Homo sapiens: one gene and its partner. Each later gene encodes a partner of the first gene's protein in a complex. Each region holds a gene or a part of one and is shown on either strand. Other genes may lie near its edges. A codon is read from its position in the direction of its gene.

Evidence for each region. Proteins that work in one complex are often made in the same cells at the same time.
Region 2: the proteins of RAN (region 1) and SIRT2 are in contact, whole or in part, in a crystal structure (PDB 5FYQ), measured with the Homo sapiens proteins. Residues at the interface, in NP_006316.1 of Homo sapiens: Phe35 (codon at 731), Glu36 (codon at 728), Lys37 (codon at 725), Lys38 (codon at 722), Tyr39 (codon at 719), Val40 (codon at 716); in NP_036369.2 of Homo sapiens: Phe96, Arg97, Glu116, Phe119, Gln167 (codon at 3,219), Ile169, His187, Ile232, Val233, Phe234, Phe235, Gly236, Glu237, Ser238, Leu239, Phe244, Gln265, Val266, Gln267, Pro268.

Annotation. Positions count from the first base shown.
Region 1 is NC_000012.12:130,869,885-130,873,632, reverse strand, and holds the start of RAN (GTP-binding nuclear protein Ran), read right to left. Parts: upstream 1,568-3,748; 5' UTR 1,507-1,567; intron 1,050-1,506; 5' UTR 1,040-1,049; coding exon 1,004-1,039; intron 798-1,003; coding exon 713-797; intron 631-712; coding exon 505-630; intron 1-504. UniProt on the Homo sapiens protein: GTPase involved in nucleocytoplasmic transport, participating both to the import and the export from the nucleus of proteins and RNAs. Switches between a cytoplasmic GDP- and a nuclear GTP-bound state by nucleotide exchange and GTP hydrolysis.
Region 2 is NC_000019.10:38,885,871-38,889,618, forward strand, and holds part of SIRT2 (NAD-dependent protein deacetylase sirtuin-2), read right to left. Parts: intron 3,286-3,748; coding exon 3,217-3,285; intron 1-3,216. UniProt on the Homo sapiens protein: NAD-dependent protein deacetylase, which deacetylates internal lysines on histone and alpha-tubulin as well as many other proteins such as key transcription factors.

The DNA.
Region 1 (3,748 bases):
TTTTCCTTGCAATTTTTAAATCAAACTATTTGAGAAAAATACTCTGCACAACTTAGTACAAACAATTTAACAAGAAATCAGCTAGTCTTGTATAACACTTGTTAAGATCTCCTATCTCCTCTGGTCTAGTATCTGGTGTTTATTGTTTTCTAATACAGTAAAAACATTCATTGATCACCACACCAAAATACATACATGAACCTAAGTTTCCAAATACTGAAACTGCTGTTAACAGCCTATTATTGTTTTAAATATGACTTATAAGTCCCAGTGTAAGTCATAGTTTTTTCTAAAGCATGCCTAGCATGACACAGCATGCAAATGACACAACTTTAATAAAATTTTCTCTGCCACCAAAATGGTGGTCAACTCCCCGAAGTCCACTTGTCTTTTTTTAACCCAAAAATGACACTATTTGTTGGAACAGACCTGATTTTCTATAACCTTGAAGACTGAAGTACACAAAACCTCTCAAAAACCGTTCAGCAAGTTACAAATGCCTACCTTGGATATAATAGCCATCTCTCAGTCCACCGAATTTCTCCTGGCCGGCTGTGTCCCATACATTGAACTTAATAGGTCCTCTGTTGGTGTGGAACACTAGGGGATGAACCTCAACACCCAAGGTGGCTGAAACGGAAACGATGCGATTGAGTGGATGAACTTACCCATTTCTCACATATTTCCACAAGCAAGGTTTTCCAGCACATACCTACATACTTCTTCTCAAATTCACCAGTCAAATGACGTTTCACGAAGGTCGTTTTTCCAGTACCACCATCACCAACCAATACAAGCTGTTGAAAAACACATTTTGGAAGTAAACCCTAAACACTTCACCTCTCAAGATCCCAGAGTCACGGAACTTTAACCACCACAGGCTCACTTAAAACAAAGAATGTGGATGCGGGGCCCCATTACAGCCATCGTGGCCCCAGGAGGAGGGACCCGCGAGTCGCACGCGGTCGGGCTCGGCCGCCTCCCGCCCCGCAGGGTTACCTACTTTGAACTGGACCTGGGGCTCTCCCTGCGCAGCCATCGCGGCGTTCCTGCGGAGGCAGAGGACGGAGGCGAGCGCTCGCGCGGCCCCGCAGCCCATGGCGGCCCCGCTCCCGCGCCCCCAGCGCCCCACGTGCCCGCCCCACAAAGGCCTCCCGCCCGCGGCGCCATGGCGGCCAGGCCTGGGAGCGGGAAGGCGGCGGGCGGGGCCGGCATCCGGGGCGGCGGGGCCCGGGGAACGGCGGCCGGAGGTGTAGGGATGGGAACGGGACTGGGACCGGGACGGGGATGAGAGCGGAGGATGAAACGGGGGTTCGCGGGGGCTAGCGCCGACCCCACGCCCGTCTCCTGCCCCGGCCCGGCCGGGCCCGCACCACCCACCTACTCAGCCGCCCGCTGCCCCTGGGTCCGCCACCCGCCCCGGCCCTGGCCCCGGCTCCGACCCCTATCCCGCCGCCGCCACCCCTGTCCCCGCCCGGCCGTGCCGGGCCCGCCGGGTCGCGATACCTTCCAGAAGCGTCTCCGCGCCCGTCCGACTGAGGCTGGAAAGATGGCGGAAGCGCAATTCAAACGCCGGAGACGCAGCCGACGCCGGCGCGAGAGCAGGGGCGGGGCCGGCGCGGGGCGGGGTTGCAAGGGGCGGGGCAACGGCGCGGCGCCCGCCCACGTGGCCCGCGCGTGCGCGCACGCACGCAACGCGGTTCGGTCGGCCGCTCGGGCGGTCGCTGCGCTTAGGGTGGGGCGGGAGGCGCGGTGGACCGCGTGGGAGGGCGAGCCGGGAGCGCGTACGCAAGCCGGCCGGTGGGGACCGCGTGCGCCGACGCCCCGGGCGGGCTCCCGGGCGCGCATGCGCTGAAAGCGAGGCGGCGCGCCCCTGAGCGGGAGACGTTGGGCGCGGCCCGACGGTCGCGGCTCTCCTGCCTCCCGGGTGGGAGGCGGTACTCGCTCGGGCAGACGTGGTCAGGCACGCGGCTTCCAGGCGCTGGCCAGCCTGTCCTTGTCTGTGCCCCGTGGGGTGGGGGTTCTTGAGGTCCTGGGGCTTAGGGTGGCTCGCGTGCGCGCAGGACGGGTGGGTGACAGAACGAATGAATGAATGAATGGGGTCTAGGCCCGTCCTCCAGAGGCAGCCCGCTGTTCTGTCTCTCCAGATCGTAGCCTTCACGCCCCCAGGACCAGGGCCAGTTGGAGAGCGAGGAACCAGAGAGGGATGCACCCACCCAGAAAAACGGCTACTTATTTTTTTTAAGAGACGGAGTCTCGCTACGTTGCCCAGGCTGGTCTCGAACTCTCAGGCTCGGGCGATCCTCCCGCCTCAGCCTCCCGAGTAGCTGGGACTACAGGCGCGCACCACATCAGGGGTAATTTTTTAAAAATTTTTTTGAGAGACAGAATCTAACTATGTCTCCCAGGCTGGCCTCAGGGGATCCACCCGCCTCGGCCTCCCAAAGCGTCCGGCTTCTCAAAGCGTTTCATAGGTTGGCAGCTTTGGCCGCTGCATGCTACAGACAAAATGATGAAATACTGTTTGCAGTCTGGACGCGTCTACCAGCCCTAGTTACCAACGGGGACGGAATGAGTAAGTGCTCAGCTTCCCAGCCCCCTGTTGGCCTGAAGCTGTAAGAGCCCAAACAAGCTTGAGCTAGAGGGACCCGACTTCCTGGGCGCCCCTGCCGACATGCAGACAGATAAAGGCCCAAATCAGCGCAGTCAAGCGCCTCAGAAGAGTCCACCATGGGGAGAGAGCCGCAGTGACCGAAGAGTCCTCCCTGCAGTCCTGAGCACACTTGCAGGCGAGTCCGCTAGGAACCCCAGTGACGCAAATTAGGCACAAAGCAGGCGACAACCGGCCTGCTGGGAACGCAAGTCCGAGCTCCCCCAGAACCCTCAGGGGAACCCCAAGCACCTCTCAGACGCTGCTGGCGGGAGAGCAGAATCTAACAGTAAAACGGGAATGCCCATTGCTTGTGACCCCGGATTTCCATTTCTAGGGAGAGGCCCCAGAGTTAAACTCATGCCTCACGCATGTGCACAACATTTAATACTGTATAACATTTAAAAGGAATGACGGTCATCTGTTTCAACAGGGTTAGATAGATGTCAAAAGGATAGTGTTGAGAAAAGAAGAAAGAGGTGATAACAGCTTTATAAAGTCTAGGCCACCTGTAATCCCAGCACTTTGGGAGTCCGAGGTAGGAGGATCCCTTAAACCCAGGAGTTACAGGCTGCAATGGGCAATGATCTCACCATTGCACTCCAGCCTGGGAGACAGAGCAAGACCCTGTTTTCAAAAATTAATACATAAAACCTAACACTATATGTAACTTTATCTAGAGGGATTATATATATAGTATAATGTCATTTATGTATATTTTTTACAAATACACATAAAACAAAAGCATATTGGCTATTGGATATATGTATTTTGTTGTTTTTTTTAATTGACTGCAAGGATCTATATACCATATCCTGATGGTTATTGCTTCAAGAAAGGGTAGAAAGGAGTGTGATGGAACTGAGAAGAGGAGTCAAAGAAGACTTTAACTTTACCTGCAATGTTCTATTTCCTTTTTTTTTTTTTTTTGAGACAGCCTCACTCTCGCTCAGGCTGGAGTGCAGTGGTGCGATCTCGGCTCATTGCAACTTCCGCCTCCCAGGTTCAAGTGATTCTCCTGCCTCAGCCTCCTGAGTAGCTGGGATTACAGGCATGCGCCACAACACCCAGCTATTTTTTTTATTTTTATCTTATTTT
Region 2 (3,748 bases), on another chromosome or scaffold:
GAGCCACTGCGCCCGGCCACTGTTTTCTTTTAAGACAGTGAGACTTTCCATATTAAACAGGTGGGAATGTTCTTTTCTGCACAGACATTTGTGCGCGCTCATTTTTCTTAAAACAACCACCCCCTTTGGAGCAGCTGTTGTTTGCCTGTGAGGAATGCCGCTAAAACAGGTGCTGACAGAGGACACTGGCAGAGGTTACGCAGAGATGGCTCGCATGTGTGGCCCAGGGCCAAACTGACAGCGTTTCCCAGGGACTCCAGAAACAACGGGAAGGGTTTGTTTCCCTTCAAGGGCAGAAAGAATGCTCTAACTGCCTTCTGGGCTCCCTACCAGCAACCACCTTATCTCCAAAGCCTACAGACAAGAGTCACTGTCACTGTTCCCACACGCCCTGTAACTTTCCTCCCTTGCCCACTATTCTAAATCTTGGTTTTGCCTTTGGTACTTGACTCAGTCTACCCACTGACTCCCTCACATGTGAGTGAGCAATTTGCAAATAACTGAACAGTAAGCAAATAACTGAACAGCGTGGAAAAGAACCACCGAAATACCTCTGCGTTCTGTTATTCTTTGACAACATGGTTTTTTTTTTTTTTTCTTTTGACAGGATTTTGCTCTACTGGTCCAGGCTGGAGTACAGTAGCTTGATCATAGCTCACTGTAGCCTTGAAATCCTGGGCTCAAGCAATCCTCCTCTCTCAAGCTCCCAAGTAGCTGGGACTACAGGTGTGCACTACCATGCCTGGCTAATTTTTTTTTTTTTTTTTTTGAGATGGAGTCTTGCTCTGTTGCCCAGGTTGGAGTGCAATGGCGGAATCTTGGCTCACTGCAACCTCTGCCTCCCAGGTTTAAGTGATTCTCCTGCCTCAGCATCCTGAGTAGCTGGGATTACAGGCACGCACCACCACACCCAGCTAATTTTTGTATTTTTAGTAGAGACAGGGTTTCACCATGTTGGCCAGGCTGGTCTTAAACTCCTGACGTTGACTTTGGCCTCCCAAAGTGCTGGGATTACAGACGTGAGCCACCGCGCCTGGCCTTTATATAATAGTTTGTATGTGATGTGTCATTTTTTTTCTTTTTTTGAGACGGAGTCTCTCTCTGTCACCCAGGCTGGAGTGCAGTGGGGCAATCTCAGCTCAGGGCAACCTCCACCTCCCAGGTTCAAGCAACTCTCATGCCTCAGCCTCCTGAGTAACTAGGACTACAGGCATGTGCCACCACGCCTGGCTAATTTTTGTATTTTTCGTAGAGATGGGGTTTACAACAGCACCCCCTTTCCCGAACACATACACCGTTTCTGACTCCCCTTCCAGCTTAACTGTGTTCCAGGGACCCATGACCATCTTATATGCTCAGTATATGGTGTCTCCATCTTGTCCATCATCTCCCTCCCTGCTGTAGGGAATCAACTCAGTGAACATTTACTTTGACAGAAGCTGACAAACAAGGGCCAGCGGGGTCTTGGGGTGAGTGTCATGACATCAACCACAAAAAGCACTTGGCTTCAAGCAAGCTGTTATCATATCTGAGCCACGTCCTGGAATAATGGTGACTCTCTGGGCAGAAGGTTTATTCTGAGCCCGGAGTCTCCCTATGTTGCCCAGGCTGGTCTTGAACTCATGGGCTCAAGCGATCTCCCACTTTGGCCTCCCAAAGTGTGGGGATCACAGGACTCCTCCTCTTGGAAGAAGGAGGCCTCCGCTGCCCTCTGCCTCCTACCAGCCCCAGGTGGGAACACCTCGCCCACCTGAGAAATCTGAACTTAAAGCCAGTTGTTCCTCCCCCTGGCGGTAGCTTTTGGGGCTGCAGGTGCCAAACTGCAGGTACAGGGAGAAAACACTAGAACACTTATTTATTTTCAATGTTACCACTCTTTTTTGTTTGTTTGTTTGTTTTTTTAAATTGAGATGGAGTCTTGCTCTGTCACCCAGGCTGGAGTGCAGTGGCACAATCTTGACTCACTACAACCTCTGCCTCCCAGGTTCAAGCGATTCTCCTGCCTCAGCCTCCCGAGTAGCTGGGGTTACAGGCACCACCACACCTGGCTAATTTTTGTATTTTTAGTAGAGACCAGATTTCATGATGTTGGACAGGCTGGTCTTGAACTCCTGACCTCGTGATCTGCCCACCTCGGTGTCCCAAAGTGCTGGGATTACAGGCGTGAGCCACCGCGCCCGGCCACCTGTTTTATAATTCGGGGTTCTGAGGTGTGATCTAGAGCTTGAATTAATACTGTTGTAGTGCATCATGTCATTTCTATACATATTCATAAAACAGGTAGAGGCAGCAACATTTTGTTGTTGTTTTGATTTGTTTTTTGTTTCTTTGAAACCAGGTCTCCCAGGCTACAGTACAGTGGCACCATCATAGCTCACTGCAGTCTTGACTTCCTGAACTCAAGCAATCCCCCTACCTCAGCCTCCTGAGTAGCTGGGGCTACAGGCACACGCCACCCTGCCCAGCTAATTTTTGTATTTCTTGTAGAGACAGGGTCTCCCTATGTTGCCCAGGCGGGTCCCAAACGCCTGGGCTCGAGCTATCTCTCGCTTTGGCCTCCCAAAGTGCTGGGATTACAGGTGTGAGCCACTGTGCCCAGCCCATCAAGATTTTTTTACTGTTAGGGGTGTGAGACTCTCCAAACCAGAAGCCAACAATGTGAGCCATCCTTGCTTGAATGCCCCAGGGAGAGGCCCTTGGCTAAGCACCTGACGTGTACGAGACATGTTTATAATTGGGCAAAGCACAAAAAACTATAAAAAGGTGCCCCTTCCTTAAGGCACAACATCTACTTGTTGGACACGTGTCATAGTGTATGGATTTTGTTAGATGAAGTCACTTTGGAAACTCGCTCATAACCAATGTGAAATCTGGGGTGCCTATAGTGCACACAGAGTCCCTTCAGCCATAGGCTCCTTCCACATCACACATGGGATGGCCCTGAGAGGAGGTCACTGCCACCGCACTGCAGACCTGAGAGGGCAGACCTGAGAGGGCAAACCTTTTCTGGCCCCTGTTTGACGGAAGGGGAAACTGAGGCAGAGAAGACGTGACTCACGGCAGGTCATGCAGCAAGGAGGCAGTAGGCCAAGCCCTGGCCCCGCATTGCTGGAGTCCCCGCCTGAGCTCTTGGGCACGCAGCTCTGCTCCTCTGCTGAGGACACCATGCCCGTTCCACCCGCCCATCCTCCTCCCAGGATGCTCGCATCCGCCTACCTGCGTGTAGCAGCGCAGGAGTAGCCCCTTGTCCTTCAGCAGGCGCATGAAGTAGTGACAGATGGTTGGCTGCAGGGAAGAGCGACAGCACTGCTGACGACTGCAGGGAACAGCCACAGGCCACTGCCGCATGCCAGGAACTGTTCTAGGCACTGTGACTGTTTTACCCCCAGGGAACCGTCACAGCAGCCGCGTCGGGGAGAGACCACTGCTATCCCCAGATCACAGATGAGGAAACTGAAGGACAGGGAAGGGGATTGTGTTGCCAAAGTCACACGGTGGGTAAGCTGCAGAGCTGAGATTCACACCCAGGCAGCCCGGCTGCAGGGTCCCGGGCTCTCAACGGCATCATTAGTCAGCTAAGCCTCGCAGCAGCCCTCTTCAGACAGTACCATTAGCTTCACTTCACAGGAGGCAAATCGGAGGCTCAAGGTCGTAAGATGAAGACACGAGGAACCAGGACTTGAACCGAGGCAGTCTGGGCCCAGCACCCATGTACTTAATGGCTACATAATATTTGTCTGCAGGGCCT